Linked DNA regions of Homo sapiens. The protein of the gene in region 2 interacts with the protein of the main gene of each other region in a biochemical or structural test. Each region holds a gene or a part of one and is shown on either strand. Other genes may lie near its edges. The genes, in order: CGAS and RNF19A.

Evidence for each region.
Region 1: the proteins of RNF19A (region 2) and CGAS form a complex in vitro, tested with the Homo sapiens proteins (one study listed by BioGRID).

Annotation. Positions count from the first base shown.
Region 1 is NC_000006.12:73,449,298-73,456,162, forward strand, and holds the start of CGAS (cyclic GMP-AMP synthase), read right to left. Parts: upstream 3,001-6,865; 5' UTR 2,885-3,000; coding exon 2,228-2,884; intron 1-2,227. UniProt on the Homo sapiens protein: Nucleotidyltransferase that catalyzes the formation of cyclic GMP-AMP (2',3'-cGAMP) from ATP and GTP and plays a key role in innate immunity.
Region 2 is NC_000008.11:100,253,991-100,270,153, reverse strand, and holds the end of RNF19A (E3 ubiquitin-protein ligase RNF19A), read left to right. Parts: intron 1-140; coding exon 141-285; intron 286-1,206; coding exon 1,207-1,369; intron 1,370-5,368; coding exon 5,369-5,483; intron 5,484-5,958; coding exon 5,959-6,120; intron 6,121-8,398; coding exon 8,399-8,612; intron 8,613-10,156; coding exon 10,157-10,300; intron 10,301-10,907; coding exon 10,908-11,598; 3' UTR 11,599-13,087; downstream 13,088-16,163. UniProt on the Homo sapiens protein: E3 ubiquitin-protein ligase which accepts ubiquitin from E2 ubiquitin-conjugating enzymes UBE2L3 and UBE2L6 in the form of a thioester and then directly transfers the ubiquitin to targeted substrates, such as SNCAIP or CASR.

The DNA.
Region 1 (6,865 bases), on a different chromosome or scaffold from region 2:
AACCCCGTCTCTACTAAAAATACAAAAATTAGCTGGGCATGGTGGCGGGCGCCTGTAGTCCCAGCTACTTGGGAGGCTGAGGCAGGAGAATGGTGTGAACCCAGTAGGCAGGGCTTGCAGTGAGCCGAGATCGCGCCACTGCACTCCAGCCTGGGTGACAGAGTGAGACTCTGTCTCAAACACACACACACACACACACACACACACACACAAAGTGGTTCTGAATGGAGACTGTCTTCTGAATGTCTTGTTCTCTAATTCTAACTAGTAACTTTCTTTTTCCTTTGGACCCGCCATATACAGTAATTGAACTGAATTGATACTTACATAATAAGAATCATGCTCAATCAGAGACATATCTGATGCTGAAAAGTAAATTAGTTAATTAAAAAGAATCATGCTCAAGACACAGTCTGGGCTGGGTGCCGTGGCTCAAGCCTGTAATCCCAGCACTTAGGGAGGCCGAGGCAGGTGGATCATCTGAGGTCAGAGTTCGAGACCAGCCTGGCCAACATGGTGAAACCCCGTCTCTACTAAAAATACATAAATTAGCCGGGAGTGGGGGCAGGCACCTGTAATCCCTGCTATTTGGAAGGCTGAAGCAGGAGAATCGCTTGAACCTGGAAGCCGGAGGTTGCAGCGAAACCTAGATGGCACCACTGCACTACAGCCTGGGCAACAAGAGTGAAACTCCATCAAAAAAAGAAGAAAGAAGAAAGAAAAGAAAGAAAGAACAAAATAAAGAGAGAGAGAGAGAGAGGAAGAGAGGGAGGGAGGAAAAGAGAGAGACAGAGAGATAGAGAGAAGAGAAGAGAAGAGAAAAAAGAAGAGAAAAGAAGCCGGGTGTGGTGGCTCACGCCTGTAATCCCAGCACTTTGGGAGGCTGAGGCTGGCAGATCACCTGAGGTCGGGAGTTCTAGACCAGCCTGACCAACATGGAGAAAGCCCGTCTCTACTAAAAATACAAAATTAGCCAGGGTGGAGGCTCATGCTTGTAATCCCATCTACTCAGGAGGCTGAGACAGGAGAATCGCTTGAACCTGGGAGGTGGAGGTTGAGGTGAGCTGAGATCGCGCCATTGCACTCCAGCCTGGGTAACAAGAGCGAAACTCCGTCTCAAAAAAAAAAAAAAGAAAGAAAGAAAGAAAAAGAAAAAGAAACAAATCTCTTGCTGGGCAAGAAACACGCTCCAGTCAGGAACCTGCTTCTAAACTTTCAATTTACACAGGAATGATTAATGACTCAATCACCCACAAGCAAATGGAGCTGTGTAATACACACGTCGAAGCAATTATACGGAATGTGTATCTAGAAAGCGTTTTAGTATCTGTAGGAGATATTCTTATTTGTTTGTTTAACATTATACTGTAAGCTTCCCATGATTTCTGTGTAAGAAACTGGGGACAGACGGCCGGGCGCGGTAGCTCACGCCTGTAATCCCAGCACTTTGAGAGGCCGAGACGAGCGAATCAAGAGGTCAGGAGATCGAGACCATCCTGGCTAACACGGTGAAACACCGTCTCTACTAAAAATACAAAAAAAATTAGCCGGGCATGGTGGCGGGCGCCTGTAGTCCCAGCTACTCGGGAAGCTGAGGCAGGAGAATGGCGTGAACCCGGGAGGCGGAGCTTGCAGTGAGCCGAGATAGCGCCACTGCACTCCAGCCTGGGGGACGCAGCGAGACTCCGCCTCAAAAAAAAAAAAAAAGAAAAGAAAAGAAAAAAGAAAAAAAAGAAATTGGGGTCAGACGGGATAGCAGGAGAGGGGGCAGGGAGGAAGAGGGGGAGAGAAACTGAAGATCTTTTTTTCTATGGAGTAAGAGGTCTTCCTCATAGGAAAAAGTCTACGTGGAATTTTTAACAGACCACTTCAAATTATCCAAGTCAATATCTGACTCGGGACCTCAGGTCCACACCATCAAACACTGCCCTGTTACGGAAACTCGATACATGTCGGCTTGCATGAATGAACCCATACATTTGAATTCCCCCGGGAGCAGTGTCTTGAAATTAGCCAGCAATCAGTACCGGTTGGTTGTCTGATCGTTGGATGTGTAGATGAATAAACGAACGGTTTGTCGTTTTACTTAGACTAGGCTACCGAAAAACATGCAAAAGTCTAAGTTACTTCCGAAGGGAAGTGAGGGGCGCGACCCGGGGAAGGTAGGGACTGCGGATTGCGGAAGGCCGAGCAGCGGGGCTCGGCGGGAGGGCGCCAAGCAGCTCACCTTCACGTGCTCATAGTAGCTCCCGGTGTTCAGCAGCCCGACGCCTCTGAACGCGGAGTCGCACTTCAGTCTGAGCAGCAGGTGGTCCACAACCCCTTTCACCATCCCCGCCGCCGTGGAGATATCATCGCGGCTGAGCTTCAACTTCTCCAAAACCGCCCGGAGCTTCGAGGCCCCAGGCGCCGCATCCCTCCGTACGAGAATGGGGGCCGAGACCGGCAGGCCGGGGCTGGGCACGTCCCAGGGCCCGGGCGGAGGTCTTGGCTTCGTGGAGCAGCGCGCGCCCCTCTGGCGGCAAGAACCAGCCCTGGAAAGAGCCGGCTCCCGAGCCGCAGGAGGCTCCAGCCCCTCTGCCCCAGGGGCGCTGGTGGCGTCAGACGGCTGCGTGTCCTGGGCGCGCTGAGGGGCCTTTTTGGCGCGGGCCCCAGTTGCGCGGACGGGCGGCCTCTCCTGGGTGTCCGGGGCGCTCTTTTTCTGCCGGGATCCCGACTTCCTGGCGGGGCCGAACTTTCCCGCCTTAGGCAGGGCGGCCTCGGGGGCAGCCGGAGACTCGGTGGGATCCATCGGGGCGCCCCTGGCATTCCGTGCGGAAGCCTTGGGGGCAGTGGCTCCGGCCTCGGAAGCTCTCTGCATGGCCTTTCCGTGCCAAGGCTGCATGGCTGGCGCTTTCTGTTCCCCGAAAGAAGAATCCGTTTCAGGAAAAGGCCGCAAGAGGAAGAGCCAGCAGCAGCTGTTGGAAACCAAGCACTACTGGCGGGCACACAAGAGTCTGCGACCCGAAGGGGAACCCCAGGCTGGGAAGTCGCTGGGAGCCACGCCCATGCCGCGAAGAGGCTGGCCGCGGCCTTTCCTGAGGCTACAAAAGTCTCGAAGTTTCTAACTCTCCAGGCAATCCGTGCCCCTGTCTTAAGAAGATGAGGTAGGGCCGGGCGCGGTGGCTCACGCCTGTAACCTCAGCATCCGAGAGGCCGAGGCAGGCGGGTCGCTTGAGCTCAGGAGTTTGAGACCAGCCTGGGCAACCCAGCAAGACCTGGTCTTTCTTATAATTAAATATATGTGTGTGTGTGTGTTGCCTGGGCACACTGACTCACGCCTGTAATCCCAGCAATCTGGGAGACCGAGGTGGGCGGATCACCTGAGGTCAGGAGTTCAAGACCAGCCTGGCCAACAAGGCGAAAGAAACCCCGTCTCTACTAAAAAATACAAATATTAGCTAGGCGTGGTGGCGGGCACCTGTAATCCCAGCTACTCGGGAGGCTGAGGCTGGAGAATCACTTGAACCCGGGAGGCGGAGGTTGCAGTGAGCTGAGACGTGCCACTTCACTCCAGCCTGGGCGACAGAGCGAGACTCTGTCTCAAAAAAGAAAAAGAGGCCAGGCGTGGTGGCTCACGCCTGTAATCTCAGCAGTTTGGGAGGCCGAGGCGGGCGGATCACGAGGCCAAGACATCGAGACCTTCCTGGCCAACATGGTGAAACCCCGTCTCTACTAAAAATACAAAAAATTAGCCGGGCTTGGTGGCGCCTGTAGTCCCATCTACTCGGGAGGCCGAGACAGAGAACTGCTTGAACCCGGGAGGCAGAGGTTGCAGTGAGCCGAGATCGCGCCACTGCACTCCAGCCTGGGCAACAGAAAAAGAGTCCATCACAAAACAAAACAAAACAAAACAAAAACATTGACAGAGAAACTTTTCTCTTTCAAGTGAAAGTTTTTTTAAATTTAATTTTGGTTTGAGTTAGGGGGGCGCAATCTCGGCTCACTGCAACCTCAGCCACCAGGGCTCAAGCGATCCTCCCACCTCAGCATCCTGAGTAGCTGTTACTACAGGTGCGGACACCATGCCCAGCTTTTTCTTTTCTTTTTAATTTTTTTGTATACATGGGGAGGTCTCACTATGTTGCCCAGGCTGGTCTCGAACTCCTAGACTCAAGCGATTCTCCCTCCTCAACCTCCCAAAGTGTTGGGATTGTAGGCATGAGCCACTGTGCCCTGCCACAGAAACTTTTTCTTTTCTTTTTTTTCTTTTTCTTTTCTTTCTTTCTTTCTTTTTTTTTTTTTTTTTTTTTGAGACAGAATTTCGCTCTTGTCACCCAGGCCGAAGTGCAATGGTGCGATCTTGGCTCACTGCAACCTCTGCCTCCTGGGTTCAAGCAATTCTCCTACCTCAGCCTCCCGGGTAGCTGGGATTACAGACGCCCGCCACCACGCCCGGCTAATTTTTCGTATTTTTAGTAGAGACGGGGTTTCGCTATGTTGGCCAGGCTGCTCTCAAACTGCTGACCTCAAGTGATCCACCCGCCTCGGCCTCCCAAAGTGCTGCGATTACAGGCGTGAGCCACGGCGCCTGGCCAGAAACTTTTCCCTTTTTTTTTTTTTTTTTCCTGAGATGGAGTCTCATTCTGTCCCCTAGGCTGGAGTGCAGTGGCACGATCTCGGCTCACTGTAACCTCTGCCTCCCGGATTCAAGCGATTCTCCTGCCTCAGCCTCCGAAGTAGCTGGGACTACAGGTGTGCGCCGCCATGCCCGGCTAATTTTTGTATTTTTAGTAGAAAGGAGTTTCACCATATTGGCCAGGCTGGTCTGGGACTCCTTATCTCGTGATCCACCTGCCTCGGCCTCCCAAACTGTTGGGATTACGGGCATGAGCCTCAGCGCCCGGCCAACTTTTTCAATGTAAATTTAAATAGGGTTTTTTAAAAATCAATAAGAAATAAAATAATAATTTTTAAAAAGAAAAAAATTAATAACAAATGAAAAATACTTTGAAAAAAGAAAAAAATAAGAAAGAGAAAATATTCAACTTTTACAAGATGGAATGAAACAAAGATTGACTGCAATTGGAGTAAATACTTCTATTTGACATTTTTTAAAAAGCACAGAAAATCTTTAAAATGTTGTGTAAAGTTTCTGCCTGGTGCGGTGACTCACGCCTATAATCCCGGCACTTTGGAAGGCGAAGGTGGGTGGATCACTTGAGGTCAGGAGTTCAAGACCAGCCTGTCCAGCATGGTGAAAACCCATCTCTACTAAAAATACAAAAATTAGCCAGGTGTGGTGGGCCATGCTTGTAAACCCAGCTACTGGGGAGGCTGAGACGGGAGAATTGCTTGAATCGGGAAAGCGGAGGTGGTAATGAGCTGAGATCAGACCACTGCACTCCATCCTGGGCGACAGGGCAAATGACTCTGTCTCAGGGGGAAAAAAAGTTGTGTAAAGTTCTCTCTTTTTATTTTATTTTATTTTATTCATTTTTGAGACGGAGTTTTGCTCTTGTTGCCCAGGCTGGAGTGCAATGGTACAATCTCAGCTCACCACACCCTCCGCCTCCCGGGTTCAAGAGATTCTCGTGACTCAGCCTCTTGCGCAGCTGGGACTACAGGCGTGCCCCACCATGCCCAGCTAATTTTTGTATGGTTTTGTAGAAATGTGGTTTCACCATGTTGCCCAGGCTGGTCCCCAACAAGCTATCTGCCCGCCTCAGCCTCCCAAAGTGCTGTTACTGGCATGAGCCACTGCACCGGACCTGGCATTTACATTTTAAATCATTCATACTGCTTCAGCTGTTGTGATTCTAGAGTATCTCAATACAGGCTTTCAAATATCTTTTTTTTTTTTTCGAGATGGAGTTTCACTTTTGTTGTCCAGGCTGGAGTGCAATGGTGCTATCTCGGCTCTCTGTAACCTCCGCCTCCTGGGTTCAAGCGATTCTCCTGCCTCAACCTCCTGAGTAGCTGGGATTATAGGCGCCTGCCACCACACCCAGCTAATTTTTTTACCTTTTTAGTAGAGACGGGGTTTCACCATGTTGACCAGGCTGGTCTCGAACTCCTGACCTCAGGTGATCTGCCCCCTTTGGCCTCCCAAAGTGTTGGGATTACAGGCGTGAGCCACCTTGCCTGGCCTTCAAGTATCTATTTCTAAAGCCCCTGATAGAAATGCATATTAGAGGTCAGGCGCAGTGGCTCATGCCTATAATCCCAGCACTTCAGGAGCCCTAGATCTTCTGAGATCAGGAGTTCAAGACCAGCCTGGCCTACATGATGAAACTTTGTCTCTACTAAAAATACAAAAAATTAGCCGGGTGTGATGGCACATGTCTGTGATCCCAGTTACTCGGGAGGCTGAGGCAGGAGAATAGCTTGAACCCAGGAGGCAGAGGTTGCAGTGAGTGAGATCCTGCCACTGCACTCCAGCCTGGGCAACAGAATGAGACTCTGTCTAAAAAAAAAAAATAATAATAATAAAAGAAATGCATATTAGACAAGAACCTCTTGGGTTTAGAAAGCCTTGACTACTTTTTTTTTCTTTGTACTATTTGAACCATTTTTGGGGGGTGTATAATTCAATGATATTAAGTATGTTCACATTCCTATGCAACCATCACTATCATCTGTCTTCAAAACTCTTCATCTTGCAAAACTGAAACTCTGTACCCATAAACAATAACTCATCTTTCTCTCCTCTCTCTAGCCCCTGGCAACCACCATTATACTTTCTGACTGTGATTTTGACTGCTCTAAGTACTTTATGTCAGTGAAATGATGCAACGTTTGTCTTTTTGTTACTGGCTTATCACTCTTAGCCAATGTTCATCTATGTTGCAAGAATTTCCTTCCGTTTTAGGGCTGAATAATATTG
Region 2 (16,163 bases):
TACTAAAAACAGCAGGCTGAAGCTATAAGTTAACAAACTACATCTTAAGATTTTTTGACAGTGCTACAATTGGTAAACTGCTAGAAGTTATTTTTAGACCAGTTTTATGTACTTAATAGATTTCTCTGTGTTCCCAATAGCTGATGATATAAAGCCATGTCCACGATGTGCTGCTTATATAATAAAGATGAATGATGGGAGCTGCAATCACATGACATGTGCTGTTTGTGGTTGTGAGTTTTGTTGGTTGTGTATGAAAGAAATCTCAGATTTGCATTATCTAAGGTAAGCTTATAGAAGGAGCTATTTATATGTAAATGTAATTTTATATTGTAAGACAAAATAACTTGTCTTAAATTTGGGTTTTATAAGATACTTAAAGGGATTGGTTTTATTCTAGTTAAATAAATTTAAAAGAAACCAAGTTATTATGCTAGTCATTTGGAATTAATAACTAGTCAAAATAGGAAATGGATATTTCCTTTTTTTGTTTTTGTTAAACTAGAATGCTAGTAAGTATGTAATACCCTGTGTAATTATGCTAGACCCATAAATACTTTCATTTAATTTTCCCATACATAAATTTTATCATTTAGGCACAGAGTGAGTTTATGATATAATCAGATAATTGATGCCTAAAAATATGCATGTTTTGCATTAGTTTACTATTAAAAAACTGACTTAAGGGTTTGAGGATAATGGAGGACTAGGGATAAATTTTTAACCTGAATCTCAGTTATCAGTATCTTGTTAATATAATTTACAGTGGTTCTTACCTTATACTTCATTGAATTTTCCCATACATAAATTTTATCGTTTAGGCTACAGAGTGAGTTTGTGATATAATCAGATAATTGATGCCTAAAAATATGCATGTTTTGCATTAATTTACTATTAAACTGACTTAAGGGTATGAGGGTAATGGAAGACTAGGGATAAATTTTTAACCTGAATTTCAGTTATCAGTATCTTGTTAATATAATATAGATTAAATAATAAAATATAATATAAAATAAGATATATCAATATCTTGTTAATATAATTTATAGTGGTTCTTACCTTAGTTTAATGAACTCAGAATTTAAAGGGGAAAAAAGCTCCTAACTATGAGAAGTTTTTAAAAATAGTCATTGTTTTAATATAGTGCACTAATTTGTTATTGTGGTGTTTTGCAGCAGTTATTTACATTATAATTTTTTCCGTTAGTCCATCAGGATGTACTTTTTGGGGGAAGAAACCCTGGAGCCGAAAGAAGAAAATATTGTGGCAACTGGGAACACTGGTTGGTGCTCCTGTCGGAATCGCTTTAATAGCTGGCATTGCTATTCCTGCAATGATTATTGGCATTCCTGTGTATGTGGGCCGCAAGGTAAAATGCATACTTCTTGTTAGTCCATTATCTTATTCTAAATCTTTAGGTGTATTCTTTTAGTATTGATGATTTTTGGGTTTTTTTTTTTTTTTTTTTTTAGACAAAGGGTATCTTTAGTTTCTTCAGTATAAAACAGTTACTCTTTTTTCATAAATTTTTAGTGTTTGGCAAGCATATATAAATACGTATAAAGCAGACTTGCTTTAAAATGTTCTGAATCTGAAAATTTTAGTATGTTTGTATTATAAAACTTTGAGTATAAAATATTGAAGGATACACACCTGAGATTTTTCTCATAGGTATATCCTTGTAAGGTCAGGTCTATGAGATCTTTTTAATGAAAGTTAATAGCTAAATAACACATGCCCTCAGGCAAAGAATAATTAGCCAGTTCTTGAATTATTTCTGCTGTAGTTCAAAGCTTTTTTTTTGGATTACTGCTTTTAATAAATACACTATTTTGCAAATTATAACAATCTTGTGAAAGTCCAAACACCAGTGACTACCACTGGCCTCTAATTGATGAATTATATTTCATTAGCTAAGCAAATAGTTCTTTTGTTAAGGGTTAATGGGATAATTTATGAGGTCCTAAGAAGTCTGTTGTTGCCTAAATTAATAGAATCTCTGGATTGAGAAGTAACTTTCAGTAGAATATAGCTAAAAGAAAAAAAAAAGAAATTTTCTTTGGTATCCAAGAAGATCAAAAAAATTAAAACTTTTTTTAAAAAATAAAAAGAAATTAATCCCAACCTTGTACCCAAGCAGAACAAAGGATAGCAATTTTCAAAAAGGGAACTAACAGGCCAGGTGCGGTGCCTCACCCCTGTAATCTTAGCACTTTGGAAGGCTGAGGCTGGTGGATCATCTGAGGTCAGGAGTTCAAGACCAGCCTGGCCAACATGGTGAAACCCCATCTCTACTAAAAATACAGAAAAAATTAGCCAGGCATGGTGGCAGGTGCCTGTAATCCCAGACTCGGGAGGCTGAAGCAGGAGAATCACTTGAACCTGGGAGGTGGAGGTTGCGGTGAGCTGAGATTGCACCATTGCACTCCATCCTAGGCAACAAGAGCAAAACTCCATCTCAAAAAAAAAAAAAAAGAACTAACAAGCTGGGCATGGTGGCTTACTCCTGTCATCGTAGCACTTTGGGAGGCTGAGGCAGAAGGATCACTTGAGGCTGGGAGTTCAAGACCAGCCTGGACAACATAGTGAGACCCCATCTCTCAAAAAAATTTAAAAATTATCTGGGTATGGTAGTATGCACCTGTAGTCCCAGCTACTTGGGAGGCTGAGGTGGGAGGATTGCTTGAGATGGGCAAGTGGAGGCTGCAGTGAGCTGTGATTGTGCCACTTCACTCCAGCCTGGGTGATAGAGCAAGATCCTATCTCTAAAATAAAAAAAGGATCTAAAGGTTGTCATACTGTGTCATAGGTGTTGTATGTACTTTTACTTATTTTAACCCTGCAGCAACCTCGATATTTCGGTCTCTGTGTGTTAAAATATTGAGATTTAGGAAAGTTTATGTAATATATCTTCAGTTACACACAAAGAAGCAGAGCTGAGATTTGAACTCAGATGCATGAATTCTTAATATAAGTTCCATGATTAAGTTTCAGTAGCTATTTGGGAACTCAGTCATGGGGAAACCACCAACTCATGAAGCAATCCATTCTGTTGTAAAATGGCTACTAATTGTTACAAAATTGTTACGTTTGAGTCAGATCTGTTTCCTTTTGTTTCCTTTATTTCTGTTTCTAACTTCTGGGACCCGACTGGGAATAAGGTTGATCTTCTTCTGTAAAACAGCTGAATTTTTTATATTCAACATACATTTTATAATCAGAAAAATAATATATACTATTTCTTAAAAATTAGTTTTGGGGCTGATGACAAACATATTTATAAGTCACATATTTATTTCTGAAGGTTTTAAGTGAGTAAACCTGGACTTTAAAAAATGTTGGGCCATGTGTGGTGGCTCATGCCTGTAATCCTAACACTTGGGGAGGGTGAGGAGGGAGGATTGCATTAATCCAGGAGTTTGAGACCAGCCTGGGCAACACAGTGTGACACCTTGTCTCTACAAAAAACTAAATAATCAGCTGGGAGTGGTGGTGCATGCCTGTAGCCCCCGCTATTAAGGAAGCTGGGATGGGAGGATTGATTGAGCCCGTGAGGTTGAGGCTACAGTGAGCTGTGATCGTGCCACTGCACTCTAGTCTGAGCGACACAGAGAGACCCTATTTCCAAAAAAGAGAGAAAAAATAAAAAATTTCAAAATATATTAGCTGATCGTAATTTTTCATGTAGTTATTCAAAGCAAGGCTTTGCTGAAAACAAAACTATTCAGATACTTAGAAGGGAAAGAGAGACTGTTGTACCACATGTACCTATAAATCATTTATAGAGAAGAGATTATTTACCTCATTGTTCAGGTCATAGGGTACAGTTACAGATCTCCTTTTTTCAAACATGTACCCAAAGGGTTGTAAATGAATGAATTAGTTTTCCATTGAAATAATATTCTGTGGTGCTTTGGGATCCCAACCAGCCTAGGAAAACCTGCTAAGTCAATAAAGTACCCAAAAGCTGAGCCTTCACTTAACAATAAAAAGTAGAGAATGTGGCAAAAAATAGTAAACAGAAAAATTAAGTTGAACCAGAAATAGTGGGATAATGTGATCACTAATCAAACATTGGTGCTTGAGGCTGAAAAATTTTCTAGAAGACTCCTTTCTCTTGGCAGCCTGCCTTTGCAAGTCTGCTCCATCAGTTGTGCCTTTTCTCTTCTTCAGTGCTAAGTTTCCCAGGAATGGGAGTGGGGAGGAGCAGGAATTAGCTGCAGTGCTGAAGGATAATGAAAGGTACCTTGGGAAGGTCTACCATCTCTGCCTGCATGGACTGTGTAGGGAAGTGAGGAGGCTCATTGACAAGGAACCTCTAGTCAATGCTGGGAAATGGGATTCTGACTAGGAAATAGAAAGGTTTCTTGTCCCATACATGCATCACCCACCTCCCACCCCAACCTTTCTACTGTTTTCCACAACACTCATCGTACTTTACAGCCTTCCAAAGGCCAAAGGTGTTATTATACCATGTAATAATAGATTATTTTATAAGTCCCATCTGTAGTATTGTTTATAAGTCATTTTATTTTAGAGAGTCCCCATACTTTTGAGGCTGTTTTGAATTTGTTTTGGAACAGAGGGGGAAAATGTGCCATATTAGCCCTTGCAAACCATGAAAATAAAGATCTCAAAGTTCATATAATTTCACAAGCCAGTTTTTAATCACCGCTTCTATGATGATATCAAATTCTACTTATTAACACCTGTCCTGTACAGAGATTGCTGAGTGAATTCAATCCTGTCTTCTGGTAGCCATTATTTATCATCTTTTTTCTTTCTCTGCCATTTACTTTGAGCTATAAATGAGAGCCCTGGAATTTGAGTCATTTGTCAATATTGTCTTCATAAAAAGGATCTGAGAAAAAAATAATACTGTTTATTCATACTTGTTTATTAGAACTGCTTTTTAAGGTCAATTTTTAAAAAGAAACCTTCCCTAGAAGCCAATTTTTACCATTTAGAGAATATTCTTTAGAAAGAAACCTTTAGAATGCTGGAAGTATCCTGTTGGTGAACCATGTAACTCATAACTGTGTTGAAAATAATAATCTTAATTTCTTCCTCTTTGCTCGATACATAATTACACTACTTTTGATTAAGATTATAAAGATGACTTTTACTCAGAACTTTTAAGCACAAAGTAAAATCCATTAAATCACTGTCTTAAGCAAATTAATAAGGAGCAAATTATTTGTGAGAATATATAATAGTTTAAGGACACTAGTAGGTTTACCTTGAACTAAGATACTCAGCTACGAACTTCTATGAAAAATCACTTTAGCAAGTATAGATCTTTTTCAACTAAGTTAAATTGTAATGTATTTTCTCTTTAATCCCCCACCCCTATTTTTATTAATTCAAGATTCACAATCGCTATGAAGGCAAGGATGTTTCAAAGCACAAACGGAATTTGGCCATAGCAGGTGGTGTAACGTTGTCTGTAATCGTGTCTCCAGTAGTAGCTGCAGTGACTGTAGGTAAGAAAATGCTGAAAAGTACTAATTACCTACAATTTTATGGAGTTAAAGTTTTGTGGAAGGATTTTTTTTAATTGTTTTTTAATTTGAGGACAATTTAAATTGAGCCTGCAGTAAGTCTTGGTTGAAAGTATTACAGATTCAAGAGCCTAGCCTTAAAGTAGTTGGTAAATTGTTAGTGGCTGATACCCTTCCTCCCCACTCCACCCCAAGTACAGTTCGGAGGCCTGGCACTTCAAAAGAAAAAAGTTTGCATCTCTCTCTTTTTCCCCTTATGTGCATTACCTGAAAGGCTGGGAACCTTGAATTTGCTTAACAACTGGGTAAATCTACTTTTGGCAAATGTTCCAGCCAACTCTTCAGAACCCTGGCGCTTTTCTCTGTATGACTCTCTTGAAAAGACTTTCTAAAACTCATGTTTCTGTGAGTTATTTTGTTGTTGTTGTTTGTAATGACTGATTTAATTTCTCTTTAGGTATCGGTGTTCCTATTATGTTAGCTTATGTCTATGGCGTAGTTCCAATTTCTCTTTGTCGAAGCGGAGGTTGTGGAGTCTCAGCAGGCAATGGAAAAGGAGTTAGGATTGAATTTGATGATGAAAATGATATAAATGTTGGTGGAACTAACACAGCTGTAGGTAAGTCCTTTAAGCAAAGGAAGAAAATGTGCTTATTAACAGTGTAAGTAGTGGGGAGGCCAGAGATAACATGCAACTCAGAATTTCCATTGCCATCCTTTTACTAGGCCTAATAGTATTCATTCAGAAGTACATAAGTGAATAAACTGCCAAGGAGGAGTGTATGGATGAAAGAGGTGGGGGTAATTCTGGGTATCTGACCTCTAATTGGAATATAATGTCTTAGAAATCATAAACTTTTCATCTTAAATTTTGCCTGAAACATTATAAATAACTAAGTAAAGGATATGAAGAGGAATACAGTTAATAAAAGAAATACGGATGACCAATAATACAAAAATATCTTCAACTCAATGTTATTCAAAGAAATGTGAATTAGAACAGTAACGAGCAAAGATTAAGAAGAATAAAAAAGCCTTCATAGACTGCCTATAGGAGTATGTCAATAAACCTTTTTTAAAAAGTGCATGTTCTATATTCTAGCAATTCTTGTTTTAGAAATTTGTCATAGGGAAATAATTAGGCAGATGTGTAAAGATAATGCCTACTTTCTTACCTCTTATTTTCTCTTGAACTGGCCTCAATCAGATTTTTGTCCCTACCACTCCAGAATTTTATTTCTGCTATTCACTGAAGCAGAGTCACCAGTGGCCTCCACGTAACCTAATACAGTGGTCAGGTCTTGGTCCTCATCTTAACAGTATATCCGACATGGTAGAGACTCTACCCTTCTTGAAATACTTCACTTTTCTTATGGGAAACCACTTCTTACCATATTTCCTGGCCAGTCCGTCTCATTAATCTTTGCTGGTTCATTTTCCTCTTCTGACCTCTAAATGTTTGTTCCCCAGAGCTCAGTTCTCAGAATTCTTATGTATCTACACTTTTCCCCTAATCTCATCTATTAAATAATGCATAGACCGACCTCTCCCCTGAACTTCAAACTTGCATGTGTAACTTTCCTCTTTAATCTGCACTTGAGTGTCTAACAAGAATTTCAAGCTTAACTTGTCTACAGCCAAATTCTTGGCTCTAAAATCTCTTCTTCCCTTCATCCTCCTTAACTCAATAAGTAGCTTCTCCATTCCTCCTGTTGCTTGGGCCAAAAACCTTCACTTAACAATGCCTCCCTCTTTTCCCTCTTGTCCTACATCTGATTGATCTGTCAGCAAATTCTGCTGCTTCCTTCAATATTTAGCCATAATCCAGCCACTTCTTACTCTCTTCGTTGTCCTTCCCTTAGTCCAAGCTACCATCCTCTTTCCTGGGCTATTGTAATAGCCTCTTAACTGCTGTATCAACTTCTCAGCTTCTATTCACTAGTCCATAGTGCAGCCATAGTCACATGTCTAAACCCTGTCAGATTATAACTTTCTTATGCTCAAAACTTCCCCAGTGGCTTCTAACTGTACTGGGGAAGAAAATCCAAAGTCCTTATCATAGCCCAAAAGGCCCCACATGATCTGCCCCAACTATGTCTCTGAGCTCATCTCTTGTCACCCTCTTATTTTATACCACTCTTGCTTGATTTTTGAGGGTGCCAAGCATTATCCTACTTCTAGGCTTTTAAACTGGCAGTTCTCTGTCTGGAATACTCTTTCCCTAGAAAATTTCATGACTCACTGTTTTACTTCATTTGTCTCTACAAGTATTACCTTATCAAAGAGGCCTTCTGTCATCACATCATATAAAATGGCTCACAGACATGTACGTACATGCACTTTTCATCACTCTCCTCCCCTTTACTCTCTTGTATTTTTCCTCATAGCATTTGTCACCGTGTGATTGGGTATATAATAGGAACTCAAATATTGGTGCAAATAAGTGACTCCTTAATACAAAATGTGTGAGAGGTACTGTAAAATTGGAACATAGTGTTATCAGATCTTAATAATAGCTTGTAGACAGAACTGTGGCATATATCTAGAAATCAACTTTTAGCCTATTCTTACTGACCTAGAGAATAATAAGCTCTTTAAATGACACCCTTAATGAAAACTGTCACATAATTTTCCTCTAAAGTCAGCGATATTTTTTAACAATCATATTCTTTATAGAATTCCTAAATCTGGGTTTTTGAAAAAAGAAACTAGTGACCATTTAAAATTGTTGGCTCTATTCCCACTGCTTCTAGTGGACTAGCCTGAAAAAAATATTTTTCCATGTCTGCGTATATTTTATACCTTATATAATGTCCTCTCTGAAATCATGGAGGAATTTAAGAAGGAGAAAATTGATAATCATACTTACTTAGTTTCTTTGGAATATTTGCATTTAGACACAACATCAGTAGCAGAAGCAAGACACAACCCAAGCATAGGGGAGGGAAGTGTTGGTGGGCTGACTGGCAGTTTGAGTGCAAGTGGAAGCCACATGGATCGAATAGGAGCCATCCGAGACAACCTGAGTGAAACGGCCAGCACCATGGCACTAGCTGGAGCCAGTATAACGGGGAGTCTGTCAGGAAGTGCCATGGTAAACTGTTTTAACAGGTGTGTGTTTTGGTTTGGTTTGGTTCTGCTTTCTGGTAACTACAAATTATTAATTAGGTGAGAATTTTGAACATAAAGCATGATGATTATATATAACCCTACTATGTCAAGGTTCAAAATAGTAATGTTAAAAATGAAATTTGGGGCCAGGTGCAGTGGCTCACGCCTGTAATCCCAGCATGTTGGGAAGCCAAAGCAGGTGGATTGCCTGAGCTCAGGAGTTCGAGACCAGCCTGGGCAACATGGCGAAACCCCATCTCTACTAAAAAAATATAAAAAATTAGCCGGATTTGGTGGCATGCACCTGTAGTCCCAGCTGGTCGGGAGGCTGAGGTAGGAGGATCACTTGAGCCTGGGAGTTGGAGGCTGCAGTCAGCCAAGATCACACCACTGAGCTCCAACCTGAGTGACAGTGAGACCCTGTCTCAAAAAAAAAAAGAAAAATTTGGTGGTAGATTTCTAAGTCTAAGGAATAACATTCTGCCAATTTTTTCACTGTCCTTGTCACATTTTATATTATAAATCGTTGCTACAGCTGCTTCAGTAGACATTGAAGCAAAGGCAGTACTTAAGCCTAGATCTTACCTCTGTGGGTAACAACAGCCAGATATTAGGAGATGGGACTTTGGCTGAGTCCTGGGAAACAGGTGGAGTCAGGACATCCAGGAATGTGTGAACTGGGACCGGGATAATCGGCTAGGGTCCTTTTATGTATTAATGCTTGCTTACTTTGTTCTCACCAAGTCTTTTATCAATAGCCATATAGATAAGTAGGAAAAATTATCTTCCCCTGTTTCTCTTTAATTCACTATTTTTCACTTAGGCTTATTAGCCTTGCTTTTTTTAAGTGTAGGGGAGAATACATGAATTAAAAGATAAATTAGACATCTTATTTTTAGGTAGTTTGCCTTTTAAATACAAACTCTTAAGTTATAGTGGTATATACTACCTCTTTTTAAAAAGGCAAATGTTGGTTGGGCTCAGTGGCTCATACCTATAATCCCAGCACTTTGGGAGGCCAGGTTGGGAGGATAGCTTGAGGCCAGGAATTTGAGACCAGCCTGGGCAACATAACGAGACCCTGTCTCTAAAAATATATATAAATAAATAAAGTATTAAAAGGCAGGTGTTATTTATAGAGTCATTTTTTAATATAGATGCCCAGGATTTTTGGATTCATTGGTGTGTCATGTTTAATGATTAATAATGTATTCTAACTTTGTGTTTTGCATTGAAACATTACAAAGTGCCATATGCTGAGTGAGAATAATGGAGTACATTTAAGTGAAAATCCTTTGTGTCTTTTTTGTGTTATTTCATTACCACTTTACTTGGCAGACAGCTGATGTTCCCCATTTTATTTGGATGGCTGGTACTATGCAGTGTGCTGCAGTAGAATTTAAATTAAATAAAAGGAAATAAAAAATAATGGTTCCTAAAATAGCTTCTGGTTACTAGGGTTCTTAACTGAATTATTTAAAGATACATATTACAGTAGTGCTGATATTAAATATAATTTTGGTGATTTCATACCCCCCTTTAAGGTTGGAAGTACAAGCAGATGTACAGAAAGAACGGTACAGTCTAAGTGGAGAATCTGGCACAGTCAGCTTGGGAACAGTTAGTGATAATGCCAGCACCAAAGCAATGGCAGGATCCATTCTGAATTCCTACATCCCATTGGACAAGTAAGGAAAAAACTGTTAAAAAATTGAAAGTATTTTTTAAATTAAAGGAATAATTCCTATCATTAGACAAATTACCAGTGAAAAGTGGCTACCAACTATTAAGTTCTCTGAGAAAAGGAAACAGTGAGCTGTCCAGAGTAGGCAAATCTGTATAGATCATAAAGTGGATTTGTGGTTGTCAAGGGCTGGGAAAGGGAAGAATGGTAACTAACTGCTAATGGATGCAAGATCCCTTTTTGGGATCATGAAAATGTTCTGAAGTTAGGTAGTGGTGATGGTTGCACAGCTCTGATCACAACTAAAAATCACTGAATTGTACACTTTAAACAGGGGAATTGTATCTGAATAAAGCTGTTCTTTAAAAAAAGGTAGCATAGTGTCTAGAACAGCATAAGCAATAAATGTGTCCACCACTATTTTAAAACATTGAAGCATTATAAAGAGTTCTGTTATATCAAGTATGTTTTTTAAGTAGAACGTGTTCTGCGTTAAGGTGTTCTCATAGCTTATATATAGTCTGAATTTTCCACATAGAAACCCTTCCCCCAGTCATCTGAACAAAAAGAAGTCAGCAATTATGTTTGTATTTGTTACTCTTATATTTCAGAGAAGGCAACAGTATGGAGGTGCAAGTAGATATTGAGTCAAAGCCATCCAAATTCAGGCACAACAGTGGAAGCAGTAGTGTGGATGATGGCAGTGCCACCCGAAGTCATGCTGGCGGTTCATCCAGTGGCTTGCCTGAAGGTAAATCTAGTGCCACCAAGTGGTCCAAAGAAGCAACAGCAGGGAAAAAATCAAAAAGTGGTAAACTGAGGAAAAAGGGTAACATGAAGATAAATGAGACGAGAGAGGACATGGATGCACAGTTGTTAGAACAACAAAGCACGAACTCAAGTGAATTTGAGGCTCCATCCCTCAGTGACAGTATGCCTTCTGTAGCAGATTCTCACTCTAGTCATTTTTCTGAATTTAGTTGTTCTGACCTAGAAAGCATGAAAACTTCTTGTAGTCATGGTTCCAGTGATTATCACACCCGCTTTGCTACTGTTAACATTCTTCCTGAGGTAGAAAATGACCGTCTGGAAAATTCCCCACATCAGTGTAGCATTTCTGTGGTTACCCAAACTGCTTCCTGTTCAGAAGTTTCACAGTTGAATCATATTGCTGAAGAACATGGTAACAATGGAATAAAACCTAATGTTGATTTATATTTTGGCGATGCACTAAAAGAAACAAATAACAACCACTCACATCAGACAATGGAATTAAAAGTTGCAATTCAGACTGAAATTTAGGCCCATAAATGCTGCAGAATAATTACCACTGTACAACCGTGTTTGGAGCTGGTTGAACTACATGTGACTACTTAAGTTTCAGGTTACCAGCAAAAGCCGGGTTTCATTATCATAATGCAGATACATTTTCTGTGTTCAGCAAGGCATTGTGTGTCATGTGGATCTTAGTTACCAAACTATGAAGTGAAGGCTTTAAAAGTGCATTATTTTAAGGATAATAAATTTGAAGAGCAAAGCATGTTTTGTGTGTTTGCCACAAAACATTGCTTGAAGCACATACTTAGATAGAAATTGGTCTTAATTTATATAATCAATATAAAATACTAATGCAATTCTACAGCATTCAAATGAAGAAAACTTGAGGCTTTAGGGATAAGTGGTTAGTGATATTTTATTGAAACCACTAAAGAGATAAGTTTAAAAGAACTGCATAGGTTACTCTCAGTATATGATACTCTGTAACATTTCTATTTATATCGGCATAAATTTCATTTTTTTTCTTCATATGCAATGTGGTTATATAAAGCTTAATGCAGCTCATTTGCTACCATTTGGATACTTAGACACTTTGAGCAAGATTGTGGCAGTTTTTGCACAACTTTGAAATAGAAATACCTGGTACTCTATCTTGTTTATTGTTGATGCCATCTTAGAGGAAAAAATGTAAAGGTAAGTAATTAAGCATATGACAGCAACAAATAAGATACATAAAACTACAAAATAAAGTCCCATTAGGTTATAAGTATTACAAAAAATCCACCTTTCTCTAAGGGGAAGTTTGTACCCCATTGATTCTTGGTGCCTTTGGGATCGACTGGGTTTTAATGGCCTAGTTATTTGAGGATTTTGCTGTGTTGTTTTCCATGTCTTCTCTGGTCACCTTGGATTATATATAAAAATACAGGAAATAGATAAACATGAATGTGATTAATAATGCTGAAAAAGTATTAGCCTACCAAAGACACACTCAGGCTTTAGTGAATAACTTTACATAACCTCAGTTTTTAACACATGCATATCTTCTCCAACCATGAAATCAAAGCACGGTGCAGAACTTGTACCAAGTACAAAAGGTCCATGTATGATTAGCATTATTTTCTTTTGCTTTTGTTTATGGACAATGTTCAGCTGACATAAGCAGAAGTTGGCCAAAATACTGCCTGTACTGTTAATTTCCTGTATAATTCACTTAAATAAAAGCAGGTTAACCTCAATGATAGCAGTTAAAATGTTCTATCTTATGTATTTCTTTTAAGTATTACCATTATGGTGCTACTGAGCGTTTTCTTTTGGTAAAAAGAAAAATGCCATGGGCTGCAGTCTTCTTCCATCACTTTTCCCTACCAGGTCCATTAATATGCTTATAACACTAGTGCCAGTTATTTTATTTGATAATGCTTATGGTATTTGTATATTTGTTTGCATTCCAATTTTGTTTAATAATGAGTGTGTAAACTGCATACGTTAAATAAATGTAAATACTAATGTACTGCTGCCTTCTGGTGTGTACACAAGTGTTTTTTTTTAATAAGAATGAGAATATTCATTGGCCATGTGGTAGTATTCATAAATATTGCAAGCCATTGTGATTATTCTGCCTTCTGGTCTCAGCTCAAGGGGAAGCATTTGCTGAACTTTTCAACAGTGTTAGAAACTACCCTTTTTTCCTGTCTAATTCCTGCCTTTCCACCAGAAAAAAAGATACTGTATACATCAACATAATTTTTTTGAGTAAATTGGTTGAATTTAACTTGAGTAAATATATGTATCATTAAATTGTGAAGAGAAATCAGTATTATAAATCCTCAGAAAAGTGGAAAGATCAGCTAACTTGGGAAAAGGGGAAAAAAGTAAAAAGATCTTAAAAGACTATTTTAAGAGATTCTATTCTAGCAACATTAGATTATGAAATGAGCCATTTAAATTCAAGCTAATTGTAATCAGATGCTTTCTATTCTTGTAGCTTCTGTAAAATGCATAGATGGTTTTTCTGTTTCCCTGGTATATAGTTAATGCTTCATGAAAATAATCTTTTTTTTTTTTTGAGATGGAGTCTCACTTTGTAGCCCAAGCCTCGAGTGCAGTGGTGCGATCTCAGCTCACTGCAACCTCCGCCTCCTGGGCTCAAGCAGTTCTCGTGCCTCAGCCTCCCAAGTAGCTGGGATTACAGGCAAACATCACCACGCCCGGCTAATTTTTTTGTGTGTTTTAGTAGAGACGAGGTTTCGCCATGTTGCCCAGGGTGGTCACAAACTCCTGAGCTCAAGTGATCCACCCACCTCGGCCTCCCAAAGTCCTGGGATTACTGGCGTGAACCACCATGCTCGGCCAAAATAATCTTATGAATATGTTGACTGCCTTGTTGACATTTCTTTAAAAGGCTAAAGATGAAATGGAAAGCTAAATGATCTTCAGAGGAATACAGCAAAAATAGTGCCCTATAGGAGGCTGGTGCATTCATTCACCCTACACCTACTTCTGGTGATACTCCCAACCAGTACCACTTCAGTCTCACCTTAAAACTAGCTTCAAAAATTCCTTGTCTCCTGGACCTTTCAACTAGCTTCAGAAATTCCTTGTCTCCTGTATCCTTCAAAGTTGGATTAATTTAGGACCAAGCCAGTTTTCCCTGGAACTCAACTCTGGGCTAGCCTTGAACAAGAGATACCTCCAGGGTATTCAAAATAAACCTTAACTCACTGAAATCTTGTTAAAACTCTTTGTACTTTAAAGCCTGTTGGAAAAATCATCTGGTAATGAGAGAAAAGAAATACAAAGATTATAATAGTATATCCTACTGTTGATTATGTAGACCACCAATTTAACTGGTAGATTCACTTCATTGTACAAATTCCCAGCTTCAGAGCACTTAATTAGTTAGCTTTTTATATTAAATGCACATAATCCACCACTCCTAACTTATTTTTCCTGGAAATTGTGTTAATTTGTAAACATGTAAGACTTTCCCTAGCCTGTTATTTAGGTAAACATATAGACAAATCACCAAAGGATAAAGTATGTGTTGAAAACTATCGGAGCTATTAATTGCTACATGACATGAGCAAAAGAAACTCCTGCTCCATAGATTGTTTTGCCTTTCCATTCACAGTCATCACGCTTCTTACAGATTCTAGTCTGTACTTGGATCTAAGGAAAAAAATTCTTTTCTCAAGGCTGCATTTCATATGGTTCCTTTTAATGGATTTGTTGTTTCATTTATTTCCTTCACTAGAGCATGAGATATCATTGCTTAACAGCCAGTGTTTACATACTGGTTGATTTTTGAATGCCAAAAATAGTATTCTAAACTTGGGGAGAGTTATGTTATTTAGGGTGGCTATTATTTAATAGCTGGATATGAAAAAGTTTGCAGTTTTAAAATTTAGTTCAGATTGGATCACTGTACATCATATGCTAGTCAGAATTTTTGTGACTTCTACCAATTTATTCGTTCAACAAAGTAGATGCTGGAAATACAGCATAGTACCAAATAAACAAACACCCTGGCTTCAGAGGGCTTGTATTAGAATTTGGAGGATACAAAAATAATAAACATATGCATGTAGCTTAAAATAATGGAACGAGATGTAAAATAACCAGATGATGATTGCTATGAAAAATTAGAGGTGGGCACAATAAGAGTGACTGGGATTTTGGGGAAGCAGTACTGTTTTATACAGGGCAGAACAGGAAAAGTCTCTAGAAGACATTTGTCCCAAGATCTAAAGGAAATGAAGGAACCATGTAAAAACATACCTGGTGAATGAGCATTTTCAGAAACATCTCCAAGGTGAGTTAGTGGACAATTTAGACATCAGTCTTGGAATCTGAATTTGCTATCTAATAGGGCAAGTCTGCCACTGTTTTTTCCTTGGATGGTGTCTTGACTGTCCTTGGCACTTTATATTTCCATAAACATATTAGAATAACCTTGTTGTGTTTCACTAATTTTGATTGGGATTACATTGAATCTATAATTATCCCCATAGAATTCTTTTACATCTTTTGTTAAATTTCATTCCCAGGTACTTGATATTTTTTATCCTATAATGTATATTTTTAAAATGTCATTTTCTTTCTTTCTTTTTGAGAAAGAGTTTCATTCTTGTTGCCCAGACTGGAGTGCAGTGGTGCGATCTCAGCTCACTGCAACCTCTGCCTCCTGGGTTCAAGTGTTTCTCCTGCCTCAGCCTCCTGAGTAGCTGGGATTACAGGTGTCCCACCACCACGCCCAGCTAATTTCTTGTATTTTTAGTAGAGAAGGGGTTTCGTTATGTTAGCCAGGCTGGTCTCAAACTCCTGACCTCCAGTGATCCACCTGCTTCGGCCTCCCAAAGTGCTGGGATTACAGGCATAAGTCACCACGCCCAGCCTCATTTTCTGTTTGTAACTAATAGTATAGAGAAATGCCATTGATTTTGTATTAACAATTTTGTATCTGGTGAATCTTACTCTTTTAATTCCAATGGTTTATCTCCAGATTCTTTGGGATATCACTGTACAATTATCACTTGTGAATGTTTGTATTAAACACTTTTACAGTGCTTTGAAGTGTGAAATACTTT